Linked DNA regions of Homo sapiens: regions 1, 2 and 4 are each reported to be linked to region 3. The links are microRNA targets in miRTarBase. Many come from high-throughput screens and were not tested one by one. Region 3 holds a microRNA gene; each other region holds the end of a gene's coding sequence.
What was found. Region 3 holds the annotated microRNA hsa-miR-644a (AGUGUGGCUUUCUUAGAGC, at 2,740-2,758, shown strand). A microRNA usually pairs through its seed, bases 2 to 8, with sites in the 3' UTR of a target mRNA and lowers its output. Matches are read on the target gene's strand: a 7mer-m8 pairs with bases 2 to 8, a 7mer-A1 pairs with bases 2 to 7 and ends in A, and an 8mer does both.

Region 1 (7,123 bases), not on the chromosome of region 3:
AAGAAATGAAAAGGAAAAAATAATCAACCAAAACTGTGCAGTAGAGGAAAAAATACACTAATTGGATATTGTTCACAGCAAGGAGTCAACAGATAGGATCTATATATATATATATATAGACTTTAAAATTAAATATAATTCAAAATCATAGTGAAGGAAAAAACCATTAGCACAACAAGTGAACTATAGCAAATGTGAATAACATAATGCAAGTGTAGTATACAGCATACATTGCTGATTATGTATCCATTATCCATGCCCTCACTATCCAAAATGATGATTTTGGTCATATATCCTTCTTTTCCACAGAATCATGTGCTTTAGGGCAGTGGTTCTTAACTAGGGTCAATTCTTCCCTCACAAAAGACATTTACTAATGTCTGGAGACATTTTTGACTGCCACAGTTTGGAGGCGATGCTGCTGGCATTTAGGGTGAGGAGATATGTTCCAGGCCAAAGTCTGATGTGTGATCTTTCAGGCCTGACCATAAGCAATTACAAAGGCTTTGCCTGACAGGCTTTGTAGGGGAAAGGTGCCCTTCCCACATGAGATTTAAACACAGCCAGTCTCTGGAGGGAGTTGTATCTGGTGCTCAGGACCCCCTGGGCTGGCCATGTCTATAAACCTAGCTGCATTCCTAGACCAGGTACCTCCATGCTGAGTCTTCCTTATCAGGGGGCCTTGGTTGAGACACTTTTCAGGTGCCTCCACAGAGACCTCGCTATTGGTGGGCCTTGACTGAGACACTCATCTCCACTCTGACTCAGTTGTTTTCTACTTCTAACCCTTCCCTGCTCCCTGTCCGCAGTCCTTGAGGTCCATAAGATGGCAGGAACCTTTTGTTCATTGCTCCTTAGCAGTGAAACAATTTCCTCTGCCTGGACTGCATGTCGTCTGATTGACGCATGTCCAGTGCTAGTCCATGGTAGGGGAAAAATGGAACAACAAGGAGCTGGCCCTACTTTCCTTTTTGGTCTCTTGCTTATAATTTTATCATAGTAAGTGAATAAAGATGTGATTGTTATTTTCATTTCAGCTACTTACCTTAACTGACTCTCAACACTTCACAGCTAGGTACAGAGATCCTACTAGACATGCTGCTATGCATGGAACAGCTTCCTATGATGTAGAATTTTATGGTCCAAAATGTCAACAGTGCTGAGGCTTTTCGGAAAAACTGACTCCATCATCTGCTCTAGGGTCAGTAAGGTCATGGGAATCTCCTGGAGTATTCTATTTATCTAGGGGTGAGTAGATGATCAAAGAAGTTGGCTCAATCACACTGAAGTAGATGGCTTAATATTAATATTCCAGGATTGGGACAGAACTTCCCTCAATTTTTATTGTGTTGGACATGAACAAAAAAAATATGTAGTCCTCACTGAAACCGACAGCAATTATTGTTAACACGAGAGAAAACAACTTTGGGATAAAGTTTATACTATGCCAGAGGTGACAAGGGAGGTCACTTGGGCTTTTGATGACAATATGGCTAATGCAACTGTGGCTGAAGCCAACCCCACCTTTGGACCTTCAGAAATGTGTAATAATACATTTTCTGATGATTTAAACCAGTTTCAATTGGAATTTTCCTACTTGCAGTGGAAAGTATTGTTACAGAAAGACAAAAGAATTTTAAAGCAATAAAAAAAGCAAGCACAATCTAAAAGCAAAGATACATTACATAAAACAGACTACACTAATCTATTAAGTAAAAGGGATCTTAAAATTGAATCACAAAGCAAAACCCAATATATACTATATTAAATAACCTAAAACAAAGTGACACAAATACCAAAAAGTAAAAAGATGAATATCAGGCAAATGCAAGCCAAAATAAAGCATAGGTCATAATCTTAATATCTGACAATTTATAGAACAAAAAGTATCCAATGGACAAAAAGGACATTTTAATAATGATAAGGTAAAACCTATAATGAAAATCTAGCATTCATGAATTTATATGCACCAGAAAACATACCCACATACTATATAAAAAGTAAAGTAAAAACCATTGATAATAAAAGGAGAAATTGACAGTGATCCCTAAGCGAAAAGATGTTTTTCTCACAATCCATGACAAAGCACATGAACCAAAAGAAAAGCAGTTTATAAAAATCTCAATGAGATATCATCTTACAAATGAGATACCATCTCACGCCAGTTAGAATGGCGATCATTGAAAAGTCAGGAAACAACAGATGCTGGAGAGGATGTGGAGAAATAGGAACACTTGGTGGGAGTGTAAATTAGTTCAACCATTGTGGAAGACAGTGTGGCGATTCCTCAAGGATCTAGAACTAGAAATACCATTTGACCCAGCCATCCCATTACTGGGTATATACCCAAAGGATTATAAATCATGCCACTATAAAGACACATGCACACGTATGTTTATTGTGGCACTATTCACAATAGCAAAGACTTGGGACCAACCCAGATGTCCATCAATGATAGACTGGATTAAGAAAATGTGGCACATATACACCATGGAATACTATGCAGCCAAAAAAAAGGATGACAAGGACATGGATGAAGCTGGAAACCATCATTCTCAGCAAACTATCACAAGGACAGAAAACCAAACACCGCATGTTCTCACTCATAAGAGGGAACTGAACAATGAGAACAGTACTTGGACACAGGGCGGGGAACATCACACACTGGGCCTGTCAGTGGGTGGGGGGCTGGGGGAGGGATAGCATTAGGAGAAATACCTAATGTAAATGATGAGTTCATGGGTGCAGCAAACCAACATGGCACATGTATACCTATGTAACAAACCTGCACATTGTGCACATGTACCCTAGAACTTACAGTATTAAAAAAAAAACTCAGTAATATATTTAGTTAAGGAGCTATAATTCACATAGATTATATAGTACACAATACTAAATAGATTTTTTAATGTGCTCTGTTCTCTGAAAATAGAAATTAGATCTTCCACAAAAATTGACCTATATAAACAACACTTTACACAGTAATATTTTGGTACCTACGATTATGTACAGAGGGAAACCTGTTTCTATGTGGACTCCAATCACAAATGACTCCTTCTGAAGGAGTGTAAAAATTATTCCCATGAGCTGGGTGTGGTGGCACGCACCTATAGTACCAGCTATTTAGGAGGCTGAAGCAGAAAGATTTCTTGAGCCCAGGAGTTCAAGGCTGTAGTGAATTAAGACTGTGCCACTGCACTCCAGCTGGGGTGACAGAATGAGACCTTGTCTAAAAAAGAAAAATGTTCCCACTGGCAAGAATTCTGTTGTTTTGATATCTCCCAACACAGGAAAAGAGAATTAGAGAGGGGCTAAAACTGCTGGGCCACTCTAAGAGAAGAGATCCCAACCCCAACTAAGAATATAGGCAGTCTACACTGTCCAGATAGTAAGGCAAGGATAAAATGATGTAAAGTTAATAAACACTGTACACTATGTGTAAAGCAAATTCTTATAAATACACAAAGACTGAGAAATTTCTACCAAAGTATGAATACAAAACAAAAATGTGAAATCTTGGTTCAAACTGGCATGGCACTAGTTAACAGTGGACATTTAGGTCAGACAGAGTCAACCCAAAAAGAAATCCGGGTGAAAACAGAAACTTTTTCCTTGGCTAGTGAGTTTTAATTGGATATTTCTTGAAGAACTTTAACTTTTCTCTCATAATTTCCATCTATTGCCTTTGTGCTCTATGTTTATGCTAAGCACACTGCCACATGTTTTTGTTACTTTACTGTATTCCCTTCAGCCTCTATATCTTGTCTATCACTGACATAAGGTGTTCAGCACACTTTTCTTCACCCAAAATTGCTGTACCACGCCCCCCAAATTTGCTAGTATTTGAGAATGGACTACGTAACTCATTTAAACCAGGGCAGCAGAATCTGCCAGCACTAGACTTCAAGGGCTAAGTTAGGTCTGAGCCTATTATATGGCTTTTAAGGGTGAAGGAACTGAATAATACATTATGAAGATTAATATCTCAGGGTGACTAGACAATTCTTCATGCTGGGCTAGTTCACCTCTTTGGGATGGAGGACTGGGCTCTAAGAAGAAATATCTTCTAGTATTTAAAACCAAAAAATCCCACATCTTCTCAGGACAGAATCAAGTGAGAAACAGATGCTTCAGTCAAACTGCCACTAAACAGTGATAACTATAACATTTTGCTCTGATACAGTAGACTTTTTATTTGTTTTGGAAAGTGATTCTAAGATTTTTACAAATAGAGTGTCTAGTCTACAGAGCAATACTACTGAGTTTGGTGACTACAGGAAAGTAATAGTTCTTGCATAACAATGGAAAAAGTTAGTTGTACTGTACTTTCTAGTTTGGAAAGTAATATATTGCTATGTATATAGCCAATAATAAATTTTATTTAATATGTAAGTACTAGTTAATAAAAAAATTCCTGATTTTTTCTACTTTGAAAACTAAAAAGTAAGAGATAAGAAAATTTTAAAAATTTACCATTTAAGTCTCTTTGATTCTGGAAATATTTTAATTAGGTTCCACTTTAAAAAAAAAGTAGCTTCCTTATGACCTCCACAGTGAGTACATTAACTACATTTTCACAAACAGAAAACTTACATACATTCAACTGTTTACAAGACATGTCTCCATATAACACATTTACATTCATGTGAAATCTATGAACTTCTTTAATTGCATATATTTATGACTCTTACATCTGGTACCTTTTAAAACAGCTAACATATAGTATGCTTATTTCCTATAAGTTAATTAATATATGACTATTTAAGGTGAGAAGAGTCTCATTTGAAGAATTACAATAGTTATATTCATACCATGGGAAATCAATAGTTTTTCTAAACATAAATTTCAAGCTAAAGCTTTAGCAATTTAAGTTATTTAACTACCAATGCATGAAATTCTTATCAGATTGTCCCATTTGGATTACAGTTTAAGTCATTTCAAGCTGTTCACAATTATTTGTGCATTGGTGGGGGGGAAAGCACCAAGGATAATAAATTGATTTTTCACATCACAGATGAAATCACAGCGCAATGATTTCAATATCCCTTCAAAAATCTAATCATTTATAAAGAGCATTTATTTCAAATGCTCAATCTTTAAGCTTTCTTAGTGTGATCAACTGATACACTAGGGATAAGAATGGAAATGGTTAAAAACAGATGCTATACATAATACTTACTAACTTAACAGAATTCAGATTTCTCCTAACATTGTTGATTTCCATTTTTGAACTGACTTCTTTAGATCTAAAAAGAACTCTGAAAGTAAGTGTAACATTTATACACTTGTCAACTATACTTAAAAAGAAACTCTGAAGGTGCCTTTCTTGTCAAAATACAAAACAAAAGTTTTCCTGATGAACAAGGCACCTTGTATGGTAAGGAAATATATAAAGAAAATATTTTCTACAAATTAATATATAAATCTATGTGCACAAAGGTGTAGTTCTCCCAGCTGCATATGTAATATTTTAAATAACACACAATAAAAAAATTCAAAACACAGATTGAAAAAATAACCCATGTGGCTAATACTCCAGTTGTTAAATATTGCAGCATATATGTCACTGTAACAATTGGGAAAGATATTCTAATCTAAACGGTTAATGAAATCTCTTTGGAAAGACACTTTAAAAGTCCCCAATATGTAACCCTGGCTGTCAAATTTCAATCTAGAAGTTTTAACAGCTAAGATGCAATCCCATGAAAATAAAAGTGTGCACAAAGGCCAGCTCATCAGACTCTGCAGTACATAGCATTACTGCTGTGACTTTGGTACGAGCCTGCTGGGCTTTTATGTTCCTTTTCATTACTATGTGCACATGGTAAACATCATATTAACAACAATCGATTTTTATCACTATAAGTTTTGCTGCTCACAGAATGCTAACAAACATTGTTTTAAACATTTCCAGATCATGACAACAGTTCCTTACCTGAACATAAACAAAGAAAACCTTAGATTTAAAAACATTTTTAAGTGAACACATAAATGCATAAGGAGAAACATAAGAACATACTATTTTTATAAGTATAAAAAGTTCCAGCTTCTGCTAAGATTTCATTTCTTTTTCCCAGTGTTTTTTTTGTGTTCATGCGTTTCTGTTTTGCTAGTTATATTCTTTTTCCGAGATGAGGTATTAGGAACAACTGCACTAGAAGGTCCACTTGTAGCTACATAAAACAAAAACAAAAAAAAAAAACTATTGCTTAAATTTACACAAACAATCCAAGTTCAAATAATACTGCTGATTGACAAAACAATTCTTGTTATAATTGTGATGTAAATGAAATGTAAAAATTTAATATAGCATTTTTAACCTTTTACTTTTCAGAATTCAACACAAATATAGAAAGGTAATGACAATGGGCTGTGTTCACAAAATTAATTTCTCATTTTACTCTACATGCTTCCTAGGAAATGAATATATTTTCATAATTTTTAACTACCATCCATTGTGCTAATGATTTTTAAATTTATACTTCTGGCCTGGGCCTTTTCCTTTAGCTCAAGATATGTATATACAACTGCCAATTGAAACTTTCTTTAAAGATATCTGACGAGAAAGACAAACTTAATATGCATAAACTGAACTCATCATTTTCTCTACAAGCATCTATTTCCTCTTGTATCTTCTATCTTATCCCTCTCTAAAAAGCTAGAAGGTAAGAAAACTAGAAGCACGCTTGACTTAGGAATCATCCTTCTGTGTCTAAACCAACATGAAGTCTTCATGAATTATCAAAAAACTATTCTAGGCCAGGCAGGGTGATTCATGCCTGTAATCCCAACACTTTGGAGGGCCAACGTGGGAGGATCGCTTGAGCCCAGAAGTTCAAGACGAGCCCTGGCAACATAGTGAGACCCCCTTCTCTACAAAAAACTTTAAAAATTAGCTGGGTGTGGTGGCACACACTTATAGTCTCAGCTACTCAGGAGGCCAACGTAGGAAGATTGCTTGAGCCTGATAGGTTGAGGCTGCAGTGAGCCATGATTGCACCACTGCAGTCCAGCTTGGGTAACAGAACAAGACATTGTCTCAAAAGAATAAATAAATAAATAAATAAATAAATAAATAAAATAAAAAACCATTCTAGGTGGCATTACATTATTACATTTCTAC
Region 2 (7,123 bases), not on the chromosome of region 3:
ACTAGTCATAAACAACTTACCTCCCGACTCATTTCATCAGTGAAGCTTTCAATGTTGAACATTCATAAATGAATATATTGCCCACATGTGCACCACTTCCAGCCTAAATCTTCTTTGGATAAGTAACCTGTTACCATGAATATAAAGAAGAGTTTCATTTAAATTTAATTTGGTCCCTTAGAAATAAGAGACTAAATGTTCCAACTTTTAGAAAGGATTCAAATAAGATATTTTCATTTTGCTAATTTTTAGAGTTCTTGTTATACCAAAAAGAAAAGCCCCTCTGATTTCTTAGGTTAGACATGGGTAAAGGAGAAAGGTATTAATACGTGAAGCAATCCATATAATAGTATAAGAAGGGTGTTATGGTCTTGCATCATATGAGGAAATGATATGGGCTAGAAATTCTAAAAGACTCTTTTTACATATATGGTTGGAGGGATGGTAAAGTTAATAAATTTGTGGTTTGCCGTAGTCTATCTACTGCAGTCATTTTTGGGAAATAGTTACCACGAATGCAAGATATAGTTAAATCAAGGTATTTCTTCCCTCATAGGTGGCGGACGTGTGAAAATTGAGAGTGTAAAACTAGATTTCAAAGAAAAGGCCCAAGCTAAAGTTGGTTCTCTTGATAATGCTCATCATGTACCTGGAGGTGGTAATGTCAAGGTAAGAAACAAGGTTATGAGCCAATCTTGTCTTTTTAAAAAAAATTCTTCTGAAATACTCTTCATCAAAATAGGTCCCAGATTGTAGACCTGGACAAATAAGAAGTGGGGATAACAGAGGTGAATAGAAGTCATTAATGTCAGCCCTGGGAGATGGAGAAAGAGGTAGGGGCCAGTTAAGATGCATGAGTTAACGAGGACTGATGCTTGTCTTAAACAGATTGACAGCCAAAAGTTGAACTTCAGAGAGCATGCTAAAGCCCGTGTGGACCATGGGGCTGAGATCATTACACAGTCCCCAGGCAGATCCAGCGTGGCATCACCCCGACGACTCAGCAATGTCTCCTCGTCTGGAAGCATCAACCTGCTCGAATCTCCTCAGCTTGCCACTTTGGCTGAGGATGTCACTGCTGCACTCGCTAAGCAGGGCTTGTGAATATTTCTCATTTAGCATTGAAATAATAATATTTAGGCATGAGCTCTTGGCAGGAGTGGGCTCTGAGCAGTTGTTATATTCATTCTTTATAAACCATAAAATAAATAATCTCATCCCCAAACTGTAGTAATTGTTACAATTTTCTATTTAAAAAATGAATAGTACATGCAGAAATTGACCTGATTTCCATTTGCAACAGGAAGACACTGGCTTTACATGGGTTCAATTGGACAATTATTTTTGCTCTGCTCTGTTTTGCATGGAGTATTATTATTTTAAAAATTGCATTTTTACCTTTCATGTGCCTGAAGGCTATCCACTACATTCTGAAGGCCTTGTTAAAATCCAAGCTGCTCATTTCACTATTCTGTTTCTGAGTGAGAAGATAAAAACTGCCCATTGTAACTTATTTCAGGTTAAATTAAACCAAGGAGTCTGATTGCAGGAAGGGAAGAGCATGTAAGAAATAAGTTTTTTTAAAGTGTTATTTTGTATAAATGGGAAGAAAGATTCAATTAAGTTATTAACATTTGGGACCTGGATAATTATATCAGAGTATGTCAGTCCAATAAATTATTTAACTAATTAAAAAATAGTTGCAAAGCATTTGAGCTGTGGTTGAGGAAGTGGTGTAAAAGTGCATCCATTAGGAATGATGCACTTTCATTAGGATGGACTCGTGTCTGATTAGAATGTCAGTTGATCAGCTAGATTTGTGTCCACACTACCAGTTTCACACCCCCTTTCCATCTGTTTGATACAGTATTATAGATATAAATATATATATATTTCTCTGTGGCCATTTGTGATACTTCCTCATATACTTGAATATTATACTTCTTTATTCACAGTATCTGTGTCTCCTGCACCCTTTGGTGTTGCAATTTTAGATATGTGAAAGTAGATGTTAGCAGGGTTCTCTCCCTATTTAAAAAAAATACATTAAAAAAGACAAAAAATTTTAGCATGAAGTTGCTTTCTGTAACAACTCAAAGCCGTAACCCTGTTTTAGTGCCAGATACAAGTCTCTCCCGTGATGCTAGACAAAAAATTATTTTTCTTTGCTTTCACCAACATGGAGTTTGTGGGGGTGGGTCCAGTTATACATGAAAGGGTTTACAGATTGTTGGTTTAAGATTATGGATTTATCTCATTTTTAATCACAGGATAGTTTGGGGTTTATTCCTATTATTATTCATGAAACCGACTTAAGATTTTTTCTTTATTTTTCTTTTTTTTTCCATTTGCTAAAGTTGAAAGTTGAAACTAACTATAATAGTTTGAAACATGTTTTCTCATTTTTCCAAATAGTATCTGTTTATTAAATTCTCTAATAGAAGATGTTTGTCTTTCTTACCCAAAGTAAAGATCCCCTGATCAGAAAGAAAAAATACAATACTTTGGGAAGCTATAGCTATAAAACACTTGAGACACAGATATCTAAATCAGTTTTTTTCCAAGACTCCAACATTGCACTCTGTAAAGTAACACACTGTGATCTAGTATTATTTATCAGTAGATAATACTGTTCTGACTGTATATACAGTCTAGAACTCACAAATCAATTAGTTCCTCTCACAAATCATTCATCTTAGACTTACAAATAAGGAATGAAATAGTCAATGGCCTGATTAAGGCAAAGAGCTACCAGGCTAGATGGACACTTTTTAAAAATTTTATCTGTTCTTTTTCTTGCTCAGGGCTGGTAGGTTGGATCTGAACCATTAAAATCAAATGGTCCACTAGGCGTATGATCTCTTTGAGCCAAATCAGTTCCTGAATATAAAGGAGGAAATGATGAGGATGTACTGAGGCAACGGGGAAGTATAGAAACATCCAAGACAAAAGCCAAGGGATGCAAAGGCAGAGACACAGGTGCTTTTTGGTGACCCAGTGGATATGGCAACCAGTGTAACTGCCATACAAGAAACCCTAGGAGCAAACCCACACCACTCATTCTCAGCTAAGAGATTTTACACAGGCAAACGTGTCTTAAACCATCTATAAATCAGTTATTTTATATGACAGTCAAAACCTTAGAAACCTTAGGATCATTATATCTATTTTCTGCCTATTAATTGCTGTGAGGTTTGATTTGACCAATCTGGGCAATTTATTCATCAGCTTCCCTTGAAGTGCACCAGAAAATAGAAGAAAGGTGTGTGGAGACTTAGGGTATTTTATTACATGTTTTCATAGTCTTAAATAGTGATTAAATTTCTCTAGAAAGAAGTTAACAGCTCATTAGAAAAGTTTTAACCTGTGAAATAAGTATTTTTCTCAACATTCTTTAAAGTTTTTATATAAGTTAACACTAGGTAAACATTCTGCATACTAGAAGTCAGTTTATTACAAATACATGTCAAAAATAAAGATTATACAAGGCACCAAACTACTAGATTTGGCATTAAAACAAATGTTTATTTCTAATCACAACAAAATTATAATGAATAAATGTTCTTGCTTTGTATGGAAATACAATTCTTTATTAAAGTTAACAGAAAGGAACTGATCGTTTGTACCAGTAAAAGAGAGAAACACACAGGTTAAATATCTTCTTGTGGGGTTAAGGGGTAGAACCTATCTTGCCTTCACTCTCAAGATAACGACTCAAATTAAGCTTTTTGAGCACCACTCTTGTGGGGACACACATACGCTGATCTAGGAATGAAATCTTCGTGGTCTCAATTCTAGATCTACTATGCCAGTTTCTCTCTGGCTTTAGCCTTTGAGAACCTGTATAAGAATACGTAAGTAATCCAGAGCTGTGAAGAGTTTAAAGGCCAACTTCTCCAGTGAACTCAACCTCTGGGTCACTTGCAACCAGAAATTGGATACCTCATAATGATGCAGGAAAGACCCGAGTTCATGATGAGTTTCAAAGGCCACGTTCATTTAGGAACCAACTCTCTCTGGATTTACCTGCTGAGTTCCAGCAGCGTGATGGGCTGACATCCCACCTACAAGTATGACACCTGTGTAACACCAGCTAGGTACGGCTGGAGAAGGCTGAAGAGAGAATGCCATTAAATGGAAGAATGTACTGATTGTAGTGACCTTCTCCACACACACACACACACACACACACACACACACCTACAGTAATACAGCAAGCGTGGAATAATCAGCCAATATATAACATTCCATCAGTATTTTATTAAGGAAATAACCTGAATGTGGTTGATTTTGACATAGCTGCAATTACAGTTTTCTTCTATTTTTCAAGCCACAATAAGGAAAATAAACTACTCATGGTCTAAATACTAGAGATAAAGTAGATTCATGGCTTGGTAAGGAAATTTTAAGCATTCCTTCAAAGATTGACGTGCTAAAATAAGCATTGATGTTTTGAGTTTTTTTACACCTAGGATTTTTAGCTTGGGTGTGTAGGTGAAGGCCAAGACTCTCTGCAGGAAAAAGCTTATTTTCAAACTCAGAAAATAAAATGTCAATCATAAAAATCTACTTCAACTTTAGCAAAAAGAAAAAAAAATCAACAAAAAGTATACTCTGTATGCTGGGATTCCGAGGTTCCAACACACTGTTACAAATCTGTGGGGGGTTTCTTTCTTCTGATAATTCTAGAGCCTGTTACCATAGAAAGGCATTTCTTCAATGGCTGGTTGTAGTTAGTTCATGTTTTTCAATCAAATTTGCAAATGTATTTGTTGCTGTATAGTGATTGTTTTGCAAAATAAAATTGCTTGTCACCTAACTGCTAGTTTTGGTTTCAGACTGTTTAATTGCTTCTCCTCTGGAAAAAAAATTTTATATATATATATAGTGATATAGTGCGTGTGTGTGTGCATGTGTGTAATACAACCAAAGAAAAATTGTGAAAACAAGGCTATTATTATGGCTGAGTTTCTATTATGTGTCAGGCTCTATACTAAATGATTTTATATTAGCTCAATTAATAAGGAAATTTATTTTTATCACTACTGTATTAGCAGGATGCTATCTTTTGCAAGTGACAAAAATTCTAATTAAACGGGCTTAAACGTAAAGGTGAATTTGTAGGCTCAAGTAACTGACTACTCAGGTGTATCTGCCTCAGGCATGGCTGGGTCCAGGCCCTCAAACGACGTCATCAGGAATCTTCCCTTTTCCAACTTTTAGTTTTGCATCCTCTGTGTTGGCTTCCTTCTCAGGCAGGCACCCCTTCCGTGATGGGCACCAGAAGCTCCAGATTTCACAACCTATCAAAGAAAGCCCCTTTACAGTAGCTCAAATCCAGGGTCTGAAAATCACTGAACGATTAATACTTGGATCTCCTGCCTACTTATGCTAATTGACCAGGATTGGCTCACGTACCCAACTCTGTCACAGGTGGTTGGAGTAGAAGGAGAATAAGGGGAGAAGTGGCTTTATTCTCCTCCATACTACCTGAGCTAATCGTGGAGAGGAAACGTTTCCCCCAAAGTTAATTCAGGCTACTCCTGCCAGAAGAGAGGAATTGATACTGTACAGGCCACAAAAACAAATACGTGGTATAGCTGCACCCCTGTTCATCTTTTAGCTCCTTACAGCTCAGATTATGCTCAGGCTTCACCAGGGAGCTTGATAGAAATACAAATTTCTGGACTCCACCCCAGACTAACTAACTAACATTCCTCCAGGTGATTCATCTGCACTCAAAAATTTGAGAAACACTAAGCTCATTCAGTCCCTGCTAATGTGTTTAAGGAGAAAGAGCTCCGTTGCAGGTCTCTAATGGATAAAAGTTATCCCAAAGACTATTTGAGACAGCATCCCTACCTCTGATGTCAAACTAGGAACCAAGGCATAGAAAGCTGTGACTGGTAAAAGAAATACTTATGTGTGTATTAGAGGTTTTCCAGCCCTCAGACTATTTTAACTTGGCTAAAACCTACTTCTCTTATTAATGGCATCACTTCTCATTCAGTCTCCTTTTGCTAATAATGCAGATTTTGTAGAACCTAGCAAGAATTATTAGTGTATCTCTAATAATTCCTTAAAATCAGCACACATGTTGTCCTTCAGAGTCTTCAAACCATGAGGATTAAATTTGTCCAGTAGCATGAATCACCATAAAATTGTTGATTTTCTTTTTTATTTGTTAACAAGGCAAGGAAAGGTTTATTTGCCTTGACAAGAGACAACCGTAAATAATGGAGGATGACAGGATAACATTCAGTGTAACTTACAGAAAGATAAATGTTCCTCTTCTTGTTTATGATGTGGCACTTCCTTGTAGACCTGAGACTTCAAGAATTTAGGGCTAGAAAATTGTCAAAAGTATACAGTCTAGCAACCTAAAATTGTTTCAAAATATTAAGCCCTTCACTCGACTTTCTTGAGCATGATAAAGCAGCATCATGGACACACTCTTTAAAGCCCTTTTTCCACCTCTCATGCCTTTCCCTCACAAATATGCCTCAGCTGTTTCCACTTCTACTCCCTTAAATTCCAAGACAATCTCTGTCCCAGGCCTCAGTTGAGGTAATAAACCTGTGGCCTCCAGATAGGCTTTATTTGGCCTGCAAACTGTTTTCAAATTTCAGAAACTTCACATGCACACACACACATCCCAGATTTGGATCTTCGCTCTTGGTGACCATTGACCAGAGCTGTCCATGGGTACCTCTGAGATGGGGTTTATTCCCTTGACTTGGCCACCATGCCCAGCTAGGCTTATTATTTTCTCCCACCCCTCTGCTTTCACTCATTACGATAAGCATTAAACTACAGATTTAGAGTTTGTAACCCTTGACCTAGGCACACTTGTCTTTCTCGCCAATATTTTCCTCATCCTATAAAACAAAAGTCCAAAATCCTAGAGCCCCTAATCCTAGAGCCAGGGAGTTAGGGAGGTTAGATTAGAATCCTCAGGGTGACAGAGAACTGGGAACACCAATATTTATAGCTTTTGTCCTGTCTCAAAAAAAAAAAAAAGCAGGGGGAAAAAGACCTTTAAGAAGCACATTTATTTCATAGCAGCAACTGTTAATGTCCATGATAAACATATTTAAGTTTCTGCACACCCCTTATACTTATT
Region 3 (7,123 bases):
TAGTCATCCTTAATGTCGTATTTCATTGTGGTTTTTCTTTGTATTTTTCTAATGGTTTGTGATGTTGAGTATCTTTTCATATGCTTCTTGGCTATTTGTGTATCTTCTTTGGAAAAATGTCTCTTCAAGTCCTTTGCCCATTTGTTGTTGTTTTTTTTTTCTTTTGCGATTGAGTTTTAGGTGTTCTCTATATATTCTGGGTGTTAATCCCTTATCAAATACATGATTTGCAATTATTTTCTCCCATTCTGTGGTTTCCTTTTTACTGTAGATAGTGCCCTTTGATGTATAAAACATTTTAGATTTTGATGTCTGATTTGTCAATTTTTTCTTTTCTTTTCTTTTTTGAGACAGTCTCTCTCTCTGTCACCCAGGCTGGAGTGCAGTGGCACAATCTCGGCTCACTGCAAGCTATGCCTCCCGGGTTCACGCCATTCTCCTGCCTCAGCCTCCGAAGTAGCTGGGCCTACAGGCGCCCGCCACCATGCCCAGCTAATTTTTTTTTTTTTTTTTGTATTTTGTTTAATAGAGACGGGGTTTCACCACATTAGCCAGGATGGTCTTGATCTCCTGACCTCGTGATCCACCCACCTCAGTCTCCCAAAGTGCTGGGATTACAGGCGTGAGCCACCGTGCCCGGCCTGTTTTTTCTTTTTTTTTTTTTCTTTCTTTCTTTCTTTTTTTTTTTTGAGACGGAGCTTCACTCTTTTTGCCCACTCTTTTTGCCCAGGAGTGCAATGGTGCGATCTCGGCTCACCACAACTTCTGCCTCCTGGGTTCAAGCTATTCTCCTGCTTCAGCCTCCCGAGTCGCTGGGATTATAGGCATGCACCACCACGCTGAGCTAATTTTGTATTTTTAGTAGAAGACAGGGTTTCTCCTTGTTGGTCAGGCTGATCTCGAACTCCCGACCTCAGGTGATCCGCCCGCCTCAGCCTCCTGAAGTGTTGGGATTACAGATGTGAAGCTCCGCGCCCAGCCTGTCAGTTTTTTCTTTGTCACCTGTACCTTTGGTGTCATATCCAAGAAATCATTTCCAAATCCAGTGTCATAAAGCTTTGCCCTAAGTTCTTTTTTTTTTTGTAGATAGAGTCTCACTCTGTCGCCCAGGCTGGAGTGCAGTGGCAAGATCTCAGCTCACTGCAACCTCTACCGCCTGGGTTGAAGCGATTCTTTTGCCTCAGCCTCCTGAGTAGCTGGGGTTTTAGCTACGCACCAACACGCCTGGCTAATTTTCGTATTTTTAGTAGAGACGGGGTTTCACCATGTTGGTCAGGCTGGTCTCAAACTCCTGACCTCGTGATCCACACCCCCTCAGCCTCCCAAAGAGTAGGGATTACAGGCATGAGCCACCGCGCCTGGCCTGAGAGTTCTTTAATTTTAGCTCTTACATTTAGATCTTTTATCCATTTTAAGTTAAATTTTGTATATGGTGTTGGGTAAGGGTCCAACTTCATCTTTTTGAATGTGAATGTCCAATTTTCCCAAGCACCATTTGTTGAAAAGACTGTCCTTTCCCCATTGCATGACTGTGGCACCATTGTCAATAGCATTTTACCATATATGCAAGGGATTATTTCTGGGCTGTTTATTCTGTTGGTCTGTATGTCTGATTTGCCAATACCACGCTATAGCTTTGTAGCAAGTTTTCAAATCAGGAAGGTATGTGTCCTCCAACTTTGTTCTTTTTTTCAAGCTGCTTTTGACTATTCAGGGTCCTTTGAGATTCCATATGAATTTTAGGATGGATTTTTTTATTTCTGAAAAAAAGAAGTCATTTGGATTTTGATAGGGGATTTTATTGAATGTACAGAATCAATAAAATCCATATTGATCAATACAGATTCAATATCTGTATCAATCTGGGGTAGTGTGGTCATCTTAACAATATTAAGTCTTCCAATCCATGAATGTGGATATCTTTGTGTTTTCTTTGATTTCTTTCAGCAGTGTTTTGTGGTTTTCAGTGTACGAGTCTTTTGCCTTCTTGATTAATTCCTAAGTATTTTTTATTCTTTGTGATGCTATTGTAAATGGAATTGTTATCTTAATTTTCTTTTTATATTGTTTATTCTTAGTATATAGAAATGGAACTATTTTGTGTTGACTTTGTATGCTGCTACTTTCCTGAATTCACTTACTCTGGCAGGGTTTTTCGTTGTGGAATATTTAGTGTTTTCTTCGTAAAAGATCTTAGCTTCTGAAAACAGATAAGTTTTCTTCTTCCCAATTTGGGTATCTTTTATTTATTTATTTATTTTTCTTGCTTAATTCCTCTGGCTAGAGCTTCTGGATACTATGTTGACTACAAGTGGTGAAAATAGGCATTCTTATATTGTTCCTCATCTTAAAGAAAAAACTTCTAACCATTGAATGTGATGTTTGCTGTTAGATTTTTATATGTGCCTTTTATTATATTGAGGTAGTTTCCCTCTATTCCTAGTGTTTCCTATCCCTGTTGTGGAGTGTTTTATCATGAAAGTGTATTAAATTTTGTAAAATCCTTTTTTGGTATCAATTGAGATGATCATGTGATTTTTTCCCCCCCTCATTCTGTTAATGTGGTATATTATGTTGATTTTTCATAGGTTGAACCTTTTTTGCATTCCAGGAATAAATCCTACTTAGTCAAAAGGATTAAAGTGTGCTTTTAATATGCTGCTGAGATTTTTTTGCTGATTTTTTTTTAGTATTTTTCCATCAGTGTTCATAAGGAATGTTGCTCTGTAGTTTTCTTATAGTGTGGCTTTCTTAGAGCAAAGATGGTTCCCTATTACTTTCTAATTTTATACTTCTACACATTAACAACTTTTATATTTAAAGCAGAAACTGGAAAATCAGGCCAATTTGGTATTAATGAAATTACAGAGGTAATTTAGATATGGGAATAAATTACCGATAATATTATTCTATCATTCATTTTAGTTACAATAAGTTTGGGTGCATATAATAGAAAACACTAAAATAATAGTGGTTTATGTAAGATAGAAGTGTATTTGTCCCCATTATTTAAAAATAGTCCAGCAGGACTTACACCACATCATTACCATTGCTCAAAAAAGAAGTTACAAGAAAAATCAGGAAATATTTTATTTTGAATAATAATTAAAACACCACATATCACAATTTGTGGGATTTAACTAAAGTAGTCTTCAGCGGGAAACTTTTGTTTTAAAGAAGTAGATGAGAATATAGGAAAGATAAAATCAGTGATCTCTGCTTTTACATTCAGATGCTAGAAAAAGGCAAGTTATTAAACCTAAAGTAAGTACAAGAAAGGAAATAAATAAAAGCAGAACTCAGTGAAGTGGAAAAGAAACAATGGAGCGCCCAAAGCTAGAAGATAAATTTTTGGTAAACATTAATAATATTAACAACCCTTAGTAATTAAACCTATAGAGAAAAAAAGAGGGACATCACTGTATATTTTATAGACATTAAAAGGATAATAAAGGGTATATTTATGCCAATAACTTTAACATTTTAGATCAAATGGACAAATTCTTTGAAAGATATGTCACCAAAATGGACACAAGAACAGATAGTAAGTCTAAATATCCCTATAGCTGATAAATCAAATGCATAATTAAATAATTTTTAAGGGCAGGCCCAGTGGCTCATGCCAGTAATCTCAGCACTTTGGGAGGCCAAGGTGGGCAGATCACTTGAGCTCAAGAGTTCAAGACCAGCCTAGGCAACATGGTGAAACCCATGTCTACAAAAAATACAAAATATTAGCTGGGTGTGGTGGTGCATGCCTGTAGTCCCAGTTACTTAGGAGGGTGAGATGGGAAGATTGCTTGAGCCCAGGAAGCTGTGGTGAACCGAGATCGCGCCACTGTACTTGAGCCTGGGTGGCAGAGTGTGACCCTGTCTCAAAAAAAAAAAAAAAGAAAAAAAAGATTTCTCATGAAGAAAATTCTGGCCTAGATGGTGTCACTGGTAAGGTTCATCAAACTTATAAGTTATAAATTAATCAGTCCTATTCAAATTCATTCATAAAATACAAGTGATGGAAATGTTTTCTTTTTCATTTTTTTTTTTTTTTTTTTTTTTTGAGACGGAGTTTCACTCTTGTTGCCCAGGCTGGAGTGCAATAGCCCAATCTCGGCTCACCGCAACCTCGGCCTCCCTGGTTCAAGCAATTCTCCTGCCTCAGCCTCCTGATTAGCTGGGATTATAGGCATGCGCCACCATGCCTGGCTAATTTTGTATTTTTAGTAGAGATGAGGTTTCAGGCCACTGCATTCCACCCTGGGTGACAGAGTGACATTCCATGTCAAAACAAACAAAATTGGTTAAAGGAGAAAAATCATACGATAATTTCAGGAAAAGCTTGTGACATAATACAATGCAAATTTATGAGAAACTCTCAGCTACCTTGGAAACTTTTTTTTTTTTTTTTTTGAGACGGAGTCTCACTTTGTCGCCCAGGCTGGAGTGCAGTGGCACAATCTCAGCTCACTGCAAGCTCTGCCTCCCGGGTTCACGCCATTCTCTTGCCTTAGCCTCCTGAGTAGCTGGGACTACAGACGCCCGCCACCACACCTGGCTAATTTTTTGTATTTTTAGTAGAGACGGGGTTTCACTGTGTTAGCCAGGATGTTCTCAATCTCCTGACCTCATGATCCACCTGCCTTGGCCTCCCAAAGTGCTGGGATTACAGGCGTGAGCTGCTGCGCCCTGCCGGAAACATTTTTATTGGAAAAAAAAAATGTAACAAAAGCTTACAGCCAACATCACAATTAATGATGAAATACCGTAGAACATCAAGAGTAAGACAAGGATATCTACTGTCATTACTTCATTCAACATTGTGTCAGTATTCCTACCCAGTGCAGTGAGATGAGAAAAAGAAATACAGGCCGGGCATGGTGGCTCACGCCTGTAATCCCAGCACTTTGGGAGGCCCAGGCAGGCAGATCACTTGAGGCCAGGAGTTTGAGACCAGCCTGGCCAACATGGCTAAACCCCGTCTCTACTAAAAATACAAAAATTAGTCAGTCATGGTGGTGGGCACCTGTAATCCCAGCTACTCAGGAGGCGGAGGCAGGAGAATCGCTTGAACCTCTGGGTCAGAGGTTACAGTGAGCAGAGATTGCGCCACTGCACTCCAGCCTGGGAGACAGAGCAAGACTCCATCTCAAAAAAAAAAAGAAAGAAAAGAAAAGAAATATAAGATGTATAAATTGGAAAGGAAGAAGTAAAACTGTCTCTTTTCCCCTCACACAAATAACGTTTGTATACAGAAAATCATGAAGAATCTAGAAAAAATTACTAGAACTAGTAAGTGAATTTAACAGCGTAACAGAATATAAAGTCAATGTACAAAATCAGTTGTATTTCTACACTGATATACATTGAATTTTTAAGAGGGAGATAATGCAGTGGTATTAAGTCCAAGGCTAGCTGAGAAACCCCATGGTGTCATAGTGATCTAAAATTCTTCTGTCTTTTCTACCATCCTAGAGTATGGTCTCATTCTTCAAAGTGACCTCATGGTCTGTGACAGCTGCTGAAACTTAAGCTATCAGGGTCACACTCCAGGCTGGAATTTGGAGGAAGGGCAAATTATAAACACACACACACACACACACACACACACTCACACACTTTTTAGCTATTTTAGCTGTCTTTTAGAAAATCCTTCCTTTTTTTTTTTAGACGGAGTCTAGCTTTGTCACCCTTGCTGGAGTGCAGTGGTGCAATCTCAGCTCACTGCAGCCTTGACCTCTGAGGTTCAAGTGATTCTCCTGCCTCAGCCTCCCAAGTAGATGGGATTAGAGGCACCTGCCACCACACCCGGCTAATTTTTATAATTTTTAGTAGAGACAGAGTTTCAACATGTTGGTCAGGCTGGTCTCAAACTCCTGACCTCAGATGATCCACCCGCCTCAGCCTCCCAAAGTGCTGGGATTTATAGGTGTGAACCACTGCACCTGGCCAAAAAGATCCTTCTTGAACGTTTCATATGCCACTTTCACTTAGAGACTTAAGTCACATGGCCATATAGAGAAATGTAGTCTTTATTATATGTAGCATTCTACTTAGTTAAATAGCAAGGGTTTTACTTAAAGATAAAGGAGGGAATTGATGTTGGGATAGACAGCATTCTCAGATAGAAACCCCTTTACTTAGCCCTCTTAGATTTGGCAGCATAGAAAAGAAAATCCCACAACAGTAGTTTCAACAAAATCAAAGTTTTTTGTTTGTTTTTTCTGTTACTTAAAAGTATTCTTGGGGAAATATCTCTCAAAAAGCAAAGAATGGTTTTGTTAGGAATATGCTATATTTTTGAATTTGGTTAGTAAGTGCTGAGAGAGGGTGGGATATTTTGCTTTCCTTCAGCATTATCTTTTACAAGCAGCTATATATGTCCTGTTAACCCTTGTTCTTCCTCAGAGACAATGGACCTCAGATAGCCTATGTTCGGGACTTCAAAGCAAAGGTTCAGTATTTCCGGTTCTGGTGTCAGGTTAGTATTGGAACTGTATCTCTGTACTGCCTTAACTTTGTTGTGTTGCTTTATATTACACAGTGATTGTGAAAATACTTAACTCACAGAAAAACAGGTAAAATGGGAAGCATTAGAATCTCTTTCATCTATTTTTAGAGCAAATAAATAGATTTATCAATTAGATCATTTGTGACTTTGGTTATTCAGAAAATTAAACCTCATGTAATCCCAGCACTTGGGGAGGCCGAGGTGGGCAGATCACTTGAGCTCAGGAGTTCAGGACCAGTCTGGGCAACATATTGAGGCCTTACCTCTGTAAATATATATATATATATATTTCTTTTTTTTAAAGAAGAAAATTAAACTTGAAACCATCTGAATAAGCAAACATTGTCACTTTTTCCTCAGTAGCCATTACTTTCAGATTGCAGGAATCTTCAAATGTAAGTAAAAGCATTTTCTGATATAATTTTAACCAGCTACTTTATTTTTATGTGTTATTTTTTCTGAGACAGGATCTCACTCTGTCACCCAGGCTGGAGTGCAGTGGTGCCATCATGGCTTACTGCAGCCTTGACCTCCTGGGCTCAAGTGATCCTCTTGCCTCAGCCTTCTCGCTAGCTGACACTACAGATGCACTTCACCACACCTGGCTAATTTTTAGTA
Region 4 (7,123 bases), not on the chromosome of region 3:
CTCCCAGACAACACAGTGAAGTTGGGAGAGAAGCTGGAGAGATACCACACGGCCATACGGGTGGGTGGGGGCTTCTCCTGAGGGGCGGAGGGTGCAGGATGAGTAGTGGGCATGGCCCTTTCCCCTCCCCAGCATGGGTCAGCTGTTGGTGTTCTTGGTTCCCAGAGATCAGAATCTGTCAAGTCTCGGGGTCTGCCTTGCACTGAGTTATTCGTGGCTCCTGTGGGTGTAGCCAGCAAGCGCCACCTCTTTGAGAAGGAACTGGCGGGCCAGAGCCGAGCAGAACCAGCCTCCAGCCGGAAGGTGAGGGGCTCAGGCCCCACAGGGTCCTTAGGGTGATTAGCCCTGACGTCTCCAAAACCCAAATCTTGGCTGTGGCAATGCTAGAAAACTGTTTTCATGTGTCAATTAATGTTGGCAGAACCTCCATTTGAGTTCCCATTCACGTTCCTGAGCCCATCTCCTTAGCTGGGCACACAGCTCCCTGGGGGAAGGGGAGGGGGCTGTCCCAGGTATATGTGGCATGTGCTGGATGCATAGGGGAGTGAGGGAGAGTCCTATCCCATTCCAGGGCCTCTGAACATGCCTCGCTGCTGCCAAGGGCCCTAAACCCTGAGATGGAAAGTTCTCTTTTTAGGAGAACTTGAGGCTCTCAGGGGTTGTGACATCAAGGCTCAACCTGTGGATCAGCAGGACCCAGGAATCTGGAGATCAGGACCCCCAGGTATCCTCACCCTCCCTGATGTCTCTTACTGTGGAGCCTTTGTGGTGGGATGACTGGGGACAGAGGAGGGACAGTCGGGAGAGGAGGAGTCATTTCGGGAGAGGAGGAGTCATTTCGGGAGAGGAGGAGTCATTTCAGGAGTGGAGGCAGTCGGGAATAGATGGGTGTGTGGGTCAGACTCTGGCAGAGAGGAGGGGTGGGTCTGGGTTCCTTTTCTCTTTTGGGAAGAGAAAGGACATCCTGGGCTGGGAGCTGGGCCTGGGGTATCCCGAGCCCTTTGGAGCCTGGTCTTAGTCTCTGGTCTCCACCCTGATACCCTCAATCAGGAGGCACAGAAAGCATCATCTGCAACCGAGAGGACTCAGTGGGGACAGAAATCTGACTCCTCGCTGGACGCTGAGGTGAATGGTGGGGAGGAGCCTGGCCCTACGGCGGAGGGCCACGGTGTACTGTGGGAGACCCCATCGTCCCCGTGTGCACACACTAATTGGCCTGCAATCGCGCAGTCCACCCAGAACGCCCCCATCCCTGCTCATGCAGATTGGTCTGAGCCAACCGTGAGAACAAGGTTGAGCCCTCACCTGGTTGTGCTGCCTGCAGCTCTGCAGAGCCCCTCCCTCTTCAGCTGGCAGATTACAGGGCTCTGACTCCTTGTGGGTGTGGGGCTTGGGCAAAGGGATGCCTTCCTATCCAGTGGCCCCCTTCCCCTTCCATCCCTGACACCCCATTGACTTGTGCTAACAGCTCTTTGCCCCACAGGTGTGACAAGCCCCGCCAAGACAGACCTGCAAGTCTTCGTCTCAAGGGACCTCCCTCATGCCAGGCCCCTGCCTCTCACAGCAGCACCCTTTCCTCTCATTGTCCCTGTTCCCTTTTTGCCTGTGGATCTGTTTGGCCAGGGTCCCTGGGGTCAGGAATATTTGCAAGACTCAGCCAGCTCCTTCCCAGCCCAGCCTCTTGGGGCTGGGACTTTCTCACCCTGCGGCAGGCACAACAGATGCTGGGACCCAGTCTCTGCCCAGGTCACAGCACAAGTGCACATCAGCACTATGGGGCCTATGTCCTGCCCAGAGACCTCTGCTCCTTCCTGCTCACATCCACAGTCAGGGCACGGCGCCCCTCAAGAACTCCAGAGTCACCTGTCTCATCGGCTCCCAGCAAGTGCCTCTTTGTCTATGATGTCCCCCTTCTCTGAGGCCTGGACCCACCCATCTTTGTCCCTGGGGCCTGCTCCCAGCCACTGAGGCCCGCTCTGGCCAGGGGAGAAGGAGCTGCCGTGCGTCTTCCCTGTGCCCCGTCTCCCTGCTTGGTTCTCCCCTCCCTTCCCTGGCCGGCTGCCATGGCCAGGAGCTAAGTGCCTTTTTGTGTGCAACCACTTACCCTTTCTCTGAAAAACCTGTTCTCAGGAAGGATCTGATAAACTCATTTACTCTCAGGTGTAAGAGACTGATGAGACCTTAGAAGCGAATTCCTCTCTGGAGGCCTTGCTTTCTAGCAGAGGTCACCTGAAGTGTGTGAGGAGGATCATCATTTTCCTCATCCCCCCTCTTCTCACATTAAGGTGGTGGCTTGCCACTCAGCAGTCCTAGCTTGGTGACTGGGAACTGCCACATACAGGGCCAGGCCTACCCTCCTTCCCCACAAGCCCCCTCCAACCCCCACCCCCATGCTCTGGACCTCATGGCTCCTATGAGCTTGGAGCATGGTGAACCATCAGAGAATCTAGAACCAACCAAGCTAGGAACATCAGCCTGGTGCCCTGTTAACCCCTTAAAGCTGTGGTTTACAACTTTTCAAAAATTTAAATCATTAGAACTCTCCATCTTGATTGACTGCCCTAGTTTTACCCAGAATCAGCTGGGGATGTGGCCAGGTGCAGAGCCCCCTGCCCATTCCCCCTTTGCATGCCTGGGGAAGCTCCAGGTCTTTTTGGAACACGACCCTTAACACGGCTCCTAAGGGGGTATCACCAGTCCAGTTCCCCAAGTGTGTGGGGGATGAGCCCTAGCCCTACTCTGTGACTCTGGGTGAGGGCTCCTCAGATCTGTGCCCCAGGGGACAGGCCCTCAAAGTGCCATCCGTGCTCAGGTCCCAGTGCCCCAGGCTGACCCACCTCTGGTCAGTGAGTCTCCTGTGCCTGAGTGAGGGATATCGGGACCTGGGGTCCCTGCCCCGAGCACCTCCCACCCACTGCTAGTGCTGGGGCTTTGTGAGTGTTCCAACTTCATAGCCGAGAGTTGGAGGACAAGGCTGGGGCAGGGCCGAGGAACGGATTGAGTCCTGCCTAAGCCTCGGGACATCTAAACAGCTCTGGCTCTGCCCAGACCTCAGGTGTGACCCTGAGCCATTTTCCTTCTCTGAACTTCAAGCAGATGACCTCAGAGAACTTTCATATGTTCATGCCATGATAGGTGAACTTTTCCAGTAAACAAAACTGTCCCCACACAGAGGAGAGGCTCCTGGAGGCCTTCACCTGGCAGGGCCTGACCGTGGAGTAAGAGCCTAGGAAGACACTGAGGGGCCTGTTCCTGCAGCTGCAGCCTCAGCAGGGCCCTTCATGCCTGCACCCCCCTCCCCTGGGGTGCCCAGTGAGGGCTGACTGCTAGGGGAAATGTCGGGGTGCTACAGCACAGCCCCCTCCCCTGTGAATCCAGCACGTGAGGGCCCTGCCCTCGTTCCTACTGGGGACGCAGCCAGTAAACAAGGAGACCAGGGTGTGCCCAAGATGACCTCAGCTGGGGATAGATGAGTGGTAGCGACTGGGTGTCCAGGCGGGTGGGGAGGCCTCTGGATGGGTGACATTGGGCACCTTCTGGAGACAGAACAGGGCTCCCACACACCACTCCGGGCTGCACCCTCCTGCTGTCTTGCCACAGGGGCCCTGTGCCCCACAAGTGGCCCGTCCTATTGTGGATCCTCAAATTTACATGCACTGTTTCAGCATAAGCCTCCCATTCCACTCTGGCTTTGTTTTCTCTTTACATCCCTTTGAAAGGACAGGGATATAAAAAAAAAATGGGCTAAGAGTAACCCTACTATGCCCAGGAGTGGCTGCTGCATGGGGGCTGGATTTCCTTATCTGAGAGGCTGTCTCACAGCGCTCTGAACGAAGCTCCTGCCTTAGAACAATTCGAAGCCATACACGTGTGGCCTGTGACACCAAGGATCTACTGGGCTTTTCCCATGGGGCTCAGTAGTGACCTAGGTGCCCAGATCCCTCTTCTAGGCATCCATGCAAATAAACCGTGGTCTGTTTGAAAGGTTATTGGGCTTACAAGGAACAGTAACCCACCCTCAAGTTAAAAAAGGGTTTGGGAAAAGTAATTCCGAATTCTACGTTACTCCAGGCCAGGACCCAAGGCAAGGCTGGGCCCTGCTTCGTGGGCTAGAATGGGAGAGAGAGATGATGGGGCTCCCCCCACTTTCTTGACAGCCTGACTCCTTCCTCACTATCCCTCGGGAATCTGTCCCCTCCATCTGCCTGTCTCTCTACAAAGTGCCCCTGCTTCCCTGTGGTGGTCCTCAGTCCCACAATGCTGGCCAGCGGGCGGTTGGCTTCAGCTTGCCCTGCCACAGATGTGCTGGCAGTGTGGAGGCCCACGTGGCAGGGCAATCAAGGCCACTGGACTCAGAGGCCACAGGGAACTATGGAGGGGATGGAGTCAGCTGAGTGATGGGACAAGAGTCTGACAGCAGCATGGGTGTGGAGCAAATGGCAGTCCCCTGCGCAGAGGACCCTTTCAAGGACATTAGTGGTGGAGGCAGCATAGTAGCTCCCAAGGCAGAGGGATTGAGAGAAGAGTTTGAGGACTGGGAAGGCGGGACACATGATTGGGTGATGGGAGAAGGGGGCAGAGAATAGCGAGATTGCTTTCTTTGCCCACGGAGAAACAGAGGAGTGTGGATCATGAATGGGCAAGATCTTTAAGTGCCAGGGGGGGTCATGGAGGAGGGGAGGGCCTGCTCCAGAGGAGGACCATTCCTGCTTCAGAGCCAAGCAGGACCTAGGCTGTGAAGATTCGGAGAAAGAGATGGAGGGGAGAGTCAGCTCAGCTGCTTACTGGCTTGCTTTCCTCCTGTCTCTTTCATTTTCATAATCTACCAAACCCTGCAATGGGCCAGCCTTGAACATACAAGTGCATGTGCATGGTCAGACACAGGCAAGCAAGCAAGACCCCTAGGCCTGACCTATGCATCTGCAATCTAGTAGGTTTAGCAGATCATAGCCCCGCACTGCTTGATTTTAAAGCCGTTAGGGGATGACCTTTGACAGTCCGCATCACCCCTCTCACACAACGAGCGCCTGTTCAAGGTTCTTGACTGGAAGTTCTACCTTGTATCTGGCCTCCTGTAGCAGTTTCAGTCCATTCCCTGTGAGGAGGGTGTGCCACATGGCTTTGGGGGTCATGGAGAAGACCCACCTTGCAGATGTCCTCACTGGGGCTGGCAGAGCCGGCAACCTGCCTAAGGCTGCTCAGTCCATTAGGAGCCAGTAGCCTGGAAGATGTCTTTACCCCCAGCATCAGTTCAAGTGGAGCAGCACATAACTCTTGCCCTCTGCCTTCCAAGATTCTGGTGCTGAGACTTATGGAGTGTCTTGGAGGTTGCCTTCTGCCCCCCAACCCTGCTCCCAGCTGGCCCTCCCAGGCCTGGGTTGCTGGCCTCTGCTTTATCAGGATTCTCAAGAGGGACAGCTGGTTTATGTTGCATGACTGTTCCCTGCATATCTGCTCTGGTTTTAAATAGCTTATCTGAGCAGCTGGAGGACCACATGGGCTTATATGGCGTGGGGTACATGTTCCTGTAGCCTTGTCCCTGGCACCTGCCAAAATAGCAGCCAACACCCCCCACCCCCACCGCCATCCCCCTGCCCCACCCGTCCCCTGTCGCACATTCCTCCCTCCGCAGGGCTGGCTCACCAGGCCCCAGCCCACATGCCTGCTTAAAGCCCTCTCCATCCTCTGCCTCACCCAGTCCCCGCTGAGACTGAGCAGACGCCTCCAGGATCTGTCGGCAGCTGCTGTTCTGAGGTAAGGCTCGGGCAGGGCTCTGGGGAAGAGGAGAGCAGAGAATGGACGGGGAGATGTGAGGGTCTTGGGCCCTGGCATATTTACCCAGAGTCTGCCTGTGTCCGCAGAAGTCCATGGCCCCTCCTGGTGGAGGCCACACTTCAGAGGACAGGTTGCCAGGTCTGGGCTCCAAGATTGGTACAATAGAGCAGAGAGAAAGAGAGAATCCCATGGTAGCCATTGGAGACTAGGGTTGGAGTCCTGGACCTGCCACTAAAGATGTAGAGTTTAAACTCTTGGATGAGTCACTTTCCCTCCCCAGGCCTCAGTTTTCTCATCTGTAGAGTGGGCTAAATATTTGCTAGGCCTCTGCCTGCTCTAAATACAATGAGGCTCTAACCAACAGAGACTCCCCTAAATTGCTTGTTCCAGGCCGAGGGTCACCTATACCTTTCCAGTCAGGTCCTTCTTGAGTCCCAGGGAGCAGAGCGAGACTGCAGCCCTGTCAGTCAAGTGAGTCTCCTGGTCATATTCTCAAGGCTAGGAACTCAGAAACTGTCCTGGAAGTACTGAGAACGACCAGATGTGCAGGGTCCTCTGCAGCGCCTCTCCAGGCCAACGCGGGAATTCCATTTGATGCCGCTGACTCAGTGCCATTCCCTCCCAGAGCTGAGCTGAGCTCCCAGACCCTGAGCTGAGCTGCACTTGGGGGGCAGATGGGGAAAGGCCCCACTGGGAGAACCTGTCCTTGGGTGTGAGCCCAGCTGGTTGGCATTAAAGGGTTTAACCTGGGCCCCCGTAAGTGTAACCCTTGTCCCATCCCACCCCAACACCCCATCTTGGGACAAGCCTTGCTCTGTGCCCAGGAGTGGTAGAGAAAGATTCCCTTGGTTTCTAGTTTCTCCTGGGCAGGCTGAGGACTATTCAGGGAGGGGGTTGCCTGGTGTGTAAGGAATTTCAGAGCACATTCCTGGCCTGCTGTAGCCGGGAAGCTACCTGCCCTCCCAAATTCCTTTTCTGACCCATGTCTTAGAGGGCGAATCTTCCTTCTCTCTGCAAAAGTGGAATCTGAGAGGATCAGGTTGCTGGCTGCCTCCTATTTCTGACCCCCACTTCCACTCTTCCTGCCCTCTCCCCATCCCCTTACCCCCGCTCTCCTGGTGGGCTAACAGCTGTTGGCTTAGGAAAATCCCATTCGAGTGCTGGGGACAAGGACTGAGGGGTGGGGCCTGTGTTTCTCAGAAACTCGGAGACTGTTTCTACAGGGACAGAACTCAAGGCTCTCCTGCTTTGTAGTTGGTTAACTGAAGTCAGAGAGGCTAGGTGACTTAAATAAGGCCACACAGCAAAATCTGGGTTTTAAGCCCAGATTTTTTGACCCCAAGGTCAG

Region 1: the mRNA of PPIP5K2 is a reported target of hsa-miR-644a. Seed matches in the 3' UTR shown: 7mer-m8 at 2,275-2,281.
Region 2: miRTarBase lists MAP2 as a target of hsa-miR-644a. Seed matches in the 3' UTR shown: 7mer-A1 at 4,167-4,173.
Region 4: miRTarBase lists LAD1 as a target of hsa-miR-644a. The part of its 3' UTR that is shown has no 7-base or 8-base seed match.

Annotation. Positions count from the first base shown.
Region 1 is chr5:103,200,572-103,207,694 of GRCh38, reverse strand. PPIP5K2 (diphosphoinositol pentakisphosphate kinase 2) reads right to left here. Exons shown (of 31, transcript NM_001276277.3): 31 at 1-6,173. The coding sequence ends at 6,061. Among named protein-coding and RNA genes, the nearest start is that of MACIR, 55 kb to the left of the region's middle.
Region 2 is chr2:209,729,294-209,736,416 of GRCh38, forward strand. It overlaps MAP2 (microtubule associated protein 2), which reads left to right. Exons shown (of 16, transcript NM_001375505.1): 15 at 557-669; 16 at 889-4,819. The coding sequence ends at 1,104. Among named protein-coding and RNA genes, the nearest start is that of UNC80, 39 kb to the right of the region's middle.
Region 3 is chr20:34,463,646-34,470,768 of GRCh38, forward strand. MIR644A (microRNA 644a) reads left to right here and starts at 2,680; the gene lies at 2,680-2,773. ITCH (itchy E3 ubiquitin protein ligase) reads left to right here. Exons shown (of 25, transcript NM_031483.7): 15 at 6,403-6,475.
Region 4 is chr1:201,376,254-201,383,376 of GRCh38, reverse strand. It overlaps LAD1 (ladinin 1), which reads left to right. Exons shown (of 10, transcript NM_005558.4): 6 at 1-60; 7 at 166-303; 8 at 638-724; 9 at 1,051-1,125; 10 at 1,484-2,544. The coding sequence ends at 1,489. TNNT2 (troponin T2, cardiac type) reads left to right here and starts at 5,697. Exons shown (of 17, transcript NM_001276345.2): 1 at 5,697-5,754. RefSeq lists enhancers at 3,091-3,854, 5,191-5,728, 5,729-6,266, 6,671-7,123.